Linked DNA regions of Homo sapiens: region 2 is linked to region 1. A link means that fine-mapping ties the variant in region 1 to the expression of a gene that starts in the linked region. Tissue or cell type: caudate. Region 1 holds a variant in brackets; the other region holds the start of a gene. All regions are shown on one strand. Distances are between the middles of the regions.

The links. PIP is the estimated chance that this variant, and not a neighbour inherited with it, causes the effect.
Region 2: it holds the start of CFAP74, and the variant in region 1 is the best candidate, but not a certain one, in a credible set for the expression of CFAP74 in caudate (GTEx, PIP 0.59).

Annotation. Positions count from the first base shown.
Region 1 is chr1:1,940,721-1,943,367 of GRCh38, forward strand. It overlaps CFAP74 (cilia and flagella associated protein 74), which reads right to left. Exons shown (of 39, transcript NM_001304360.2): 22 at 1,308-1,436. Among named protein-coding and RNA genes, the nearest start is that of TMEM52, 23 kb to the left of the region's middle. The variant G/A (reference allele first, on the strand shown) is at 1,466.
Region 2 is chr1:2,002,223-2,004,881 of GRCh38, forward strand. It overlaps CFAP74 (cilia and flagella associated protein 74), which reads right to left and starts at 1,564. Exons shown (of 39, transcript NM_001304360.2): 1 at 1,479-1,564. RefSeq lists a silencer at 1,428-1,722.

The DNA.
Region 1 (2,647 bases):
TTGCATCGTAAAGGAATCCTAAAAAGCCCTTTAAAAATGCATTTTCACTTTAATCAGAGCTTGATCTCTGATTACATAAGTTAACGTTGTTAAAGAACTATCAGGAAAAGGGCCGGGCACGGTGGCTCACGCCTGTAATCCCAGCACTTTGGGAGGCTGAGGCGCGCGGATCACGAGGTCAGGAGATGGAGACCATCCTGCCTAACACGGTGAAACCCCATCTCTACTAAAAAATACAAAAAATTAGCCGGGCGTGGTGGCGGGCGCCTGTAGTCCCAGCTACTCGGGAGGCTGAGGCAGGAGAATGGCGTGAACCCGGGAGGCAGAGCTTGCAGTGAGCCGAGATAGTGCCACTGCACTCCAGCCTGGGCGACAGAGCGAGACTCTGTCTCAAAAAAGAAAGAAAGAAAGAAAGAAATATCAGGAGAAGTAAAATAAGAAAGAAAAACATCAGCCTCCCTGTGACAGGCGGCCGGCGGGGGCAAGTCCAGGAAGCAGCCGATTTTAAGCTCAGCTCCGCCCTGTTCCCCTCCTAGTCCCACCAGGCCCGTGCCTGCTGCGCCCACCTCCCCCACCAAGCTCCACTGAGCATCATTTGTCTGGACCTTGGTCCCGGCCCGGATGCTGAGGGCAGCTCTGGGGGGCTGGGATCGGACACAGGACGTCCAGTCTCCAAAGCACAACAAATGTTCAAGCGCAGAAATCAAAGTTCACCTGGCAAAAGCAGAGACCAGGGGATGCAGCCAGCAGGCCTGGGAAGAGCCTTGGATTAGACGAGGGACAGCTGGGTGACAGGGACACCCTCAAGACACAGGTAAAGGAGCAAATGTCAGGTGTGCACTGAGCTTGAAACAGAACCCCAGGGAGTTACTGGGAAAGGGATGAAGACAGGGAAGACAGCGGGGGAGTGCACGGACCGCAGGGTACCCGTAGCAAGCCAGAGCCTTATCCTGGGCCACCTTATCCCGGCAGGTAGCAGACCCTCAGTGGCCATGAGAGCCACCGGCCATGCATGGGAGACACGCAGCCTCCCAGTCTTTTCAACAACGAGGCTGGAATAATTGGAAACCTCTGTACAAAAAAATGAACTTCAACTCGGCTCACATCTTAAACAAAAGCAACCAAAACGGACCACAGACCCAGCTGTGACTGCCCCCCAGCGTCATGGCCTCTGCCCCAGAACACATCCCTGGAGGCTGATGATCCCGGCAGCAATGAGAACAGAGGAGTGGCCAGTGGCGAGGAGCGCCTCGGAGCCCACAACCTCCCACGTCCTCCTGTCCCGGCCTTGGCGTCCTGGCACCTACCGCGGCAGGAACTTGAGCTGCACGGAGTAGGACGACTGTGCCTGGATATAGCCTGTCTTGGGCAGGAGCTCCAGGTGGGCCCTCAGCTCCTTGCACACCTCGAACTTCAGGCGCAGGGCAGCTTTCGACCTGTGGGCGTGTCGCAGGGCACTGGGTCA[G/A]GTGCCACAGTCGTGATTCTGTGTGCGCTCAATGCCTGGAGTTATTAAAACATTTCTGGCACCCAAGCCCCCGAGAGGTGCTCAGAGCCCACCCACTCCAAGCCATGCACGTGCACCTCGACAATCGGAGTCCTCAAAGCCCTGCTTTGTAAGGGCTGTTTTTTCTGAAATGAAATCTGATGAAGAATTCTTAAAAATAACCACATCGAAACGGAAGCACGGTCCTAATGGGCTCTCGGGAACCAGATGCTTTCCGGGAAGAGCACCTGCCAGGCAGCCCCTGGGTGCGGGGCCCTGGAGGGGACATGAGGGGTGGAACCCCTCCCTCCAGGGCTCTGCCCGCCTCCTGCCCAGGGCATCCCCACATCCTGCAGCTCAAGCACAGGGCACGTGGGGGGCCTGGGACGGCCACAGGCCTCGGTTATGACAGCAGCCTCCAACCCAAGACGAGCCTGAGAGAGCCAAGGTACCCGCCAGTCACCTGGGAGGCCATGCGTCTGTCCGGTCCCTACCTCCGGCTCCCTTAAGCCAACGGCCTCCTCAGGACCACCTGGAGCCTCCCTGTTCCCACAGTGAAGCCTCCCTCCCCTCCCCCGTCTTGGAGCCTCTGCTAAACAGTGTTGTGGCCGCCCCGCCACAGCTGCCCCGGGCAATCCACGAGGGGGGACCCAGAGGGTGTGGCAGTGAGAAATCTCCTCCCTCCTGTGCTTCCATGCGACAGTCACCCATGCTGTGGCAGCCTCATCTCCGTCCATCACAGACCTGCCTCTGACCTCTGACCACTACCCAGAGGCCACCCACAGTGCGTCTGGGCACGCCAGCCTCTGCACCCCTACTGCTGGGCCCCATGGGAGGCGGGCGCCCGGGTGCTCAGAGACCGCGCCCTCCCCGTCAGGCAGACGCTGCTCTGCCTTCCGGTTCCCTTATGGGGCCAGAGTCTATACAAATGAGCACACAGCTACACTGAGGTACACACAACCACAGCCGGAGACCATCCACAGAGCTGGGCCCCACTCAGCCCTCAATGCCCGACAGACACGCCTGGGCCCTTTCTGTCAAGTTTCCAAGGCCACTGAGAGGCTGTAGTAGGACGATGCCGGAGGCGAGCAGACTCCACCGCAGACACGCCAACACACGCAGCTGGCTCCCGGGTCACCGCAGGCTGCACATTCCCGGCCCATG
Region 2 (2,659 bases), 62 kb after region 1:
GCTTGCAACTTTTATACAAGTTTGGGATTGTTTCAAAAAATGTTAAAGAATGTATGTGGTATTACATAAAGTTTATATATATTATTAAACTTATATAAACCTTATATAATACCACACATATTCTTTAAAATTTTATATAAATAAATTTATATAAAATTTAAAATAAATGAAAGTTGGCTGGGTGTGGTGGCTCACCGCCTGTAATTCCAGCACTTTGGGAGGCGGAGGTGGGTGGATCATTTGAGATCAGGAGTTCAAGACCATCCTGGCCAACACGCGGAAACCCCGTCTATACTAAAAATACAAAAATTAGCCAGGCATGCTATAATCCCAGCTACTTGGGAGGCTGAGGCAGGAGAATCGCTTGAACCCAGGAGGTGGAGGTTGCAGTGAGCCGAGATCGCCCTGCTGCATTCCAACCTGGGCAACACAGTGAGACTCTGTCTCAAAAAAACAAAAATTTAAAGAATATATGTAGTATTATATGAAGTTTAATATATATTATTAAACTTACATAAAACTATATGTGGCATTATATATAGTCTATATATTTATATTATATATTGTTTATATAACACCACATATATTCTTTAAAATTTTATATAAAGTTTATATAAAGTTTAAAATAAGTGAAAGTTAACTATATTGTTTAGGGACACATGCATAGGTAGTAAAACTAAAGAAATTTATATATCATCTTTAAAATTTTATATAAATATAAAGTTTATATAAAGTTTAAAATAAGTGAAAGTTAACTATATTGTTTAGGGACGCATGCATAGGTAGTAAAACTAAAGAAAAAGTCAGCCATGGTCAAGAAGAGCGGGTCTGTGAGTGGCATGGGGGAGAGACTTTGGGGTGCTGATGAGGTTCTATTTCTTAACTTGGGTAGTGGCTACTGATGTTCGATTTATAACCAATCTCTAAGTCGCACATGCGCATTTATGCACCATCGTTATGCAGAGAATATCAGTCCATTTCTTTTCAACTGTGGGCCCTACAGCAGGCCTGCTTACTACCTCAGTACCTGGCTTATGCAGATAAAAGGAGTATTCCTTTAAGAAAAACAAAATACTAGAGGCAAATCAGCTTCCAAAACTAGGTTATACATACTAAAACTAAATGACTTTGGGGCTATGGACCATGCTCTCCTTTTTAGCTAGGCAGACACTCACGAGTCTTAACTGTTCACCAGACAGGCTGGCCCTTGATTTTTGTTTAATGTTTTTGTAAATGTGTTATAATAATACTTTATTATAACATCTGCTGCAAAGTCAGGGGCGGGTCCCTCAACAGAGGCTGTGCCAGCGCCGGGGTTCCCTGAAACGAACCAGGGACTAGAACTATTAACAAAGTCATTTTTCTGGCACAGCTTTCCGGGAAAGGCGTTTCATATGGGACGGAGTTCTGCCTGGGGGGCGGGGGTCAAACCCTTCCAGCTCAGCCCCAGGGTCAAACGCATCCGCCCCCACACCCACCTCTGGCTGGCCTGGGTCCCAGGTTCTCGGGCTCCGGAGGCACAGACACCCCGGGCTGCTCAGGCAGGCGGCGGTCCTTGGCGATTGCCCTCCGCGGCGCCGGCGGCGTGGTTTGGGGCGGGCAGCTCCATGGCAACGGAAGACTCCATCGTGGCCGGAGGGGGAGCCTCGCCCGTTCTGCTCCCCGGCTGGAGCGGGTGGTTTGGTCCGACCCACCACCGACCGCGCGGGCCGGGGCCGGGGCAAGGAGGTCGCGGGCCCCGAGGCGCGGCTGAAGGGCCAGGCCACAGGCCGCGGGGCGGGGACGTCTCCGGGGTCCCAGACAGCCAGGCCTGGCCCAGGGCCAAGGCTTGGAGGTGACAGACAGACTTGGGGGGCCTGGAGGAGCTCAGCACCGGCGCGTTGGCCCAGAGGACCGGGGCGGGTGCATGATGGTTTGGAGTCGTTTGTCAACCTAAAAAACTAGGAGGTTTCCCGTGAAAATGGGGATTTTCCTCTTCTCTTGCAAATGGAAGATCGGGCTGGGCGCGGTGGCTCACACCTGTCATCCCAACAATTTAGGAGGCCGAGGTGGACGGATCACTTGAGGTCAGGAGTTCGAGACCAGCTTCGCCAACATGGTGAAACCCCGTCTCTTCTAAATATACAAAAATTAGCAGGGCATGGTGGCAGCTGCCTGTAATCCCAGCTACTCAGGAGGCTGAGGCAGGAGAATCGCTTGAATCCAGGAGGAGGAGGTTGCAGTGAGCCAAGATCGTACCACTGCACTCCAGCCTGGATGACAGAGTGAGACTCCGGCTCAAAAAAAAAAAAAAAAAAAAAAAGACTTCTGAATGTTATGTTCCAGCAAAGGCTCCAACTGAAAAATTGTAAAAGTAAATAGCAAAGTCAGTGAGCTATGATGGTGCCATCACACTCTGGCCTGAGCGAAATCAAGACCCTGTTTCAAAATTAAAAACAGCAAAAACCCGGTTGGGCACAGTGGCTCATGCCTGTAATCCCAGCACTTTGGGAGGCTGAGTTGGGCAGATCACTTGAGGTCAGGAGTTCGAGACTATCCTGGTCAACATGGTGAAACCCTGTCTCTACTAAAAATACAAAAATTAGCCGGGTGTGGTGGCGCACACCTGCAGTCCCAGCTACCCCAGAGGCTGAGGCAGGAGAATCGTTTGAACCCGGGA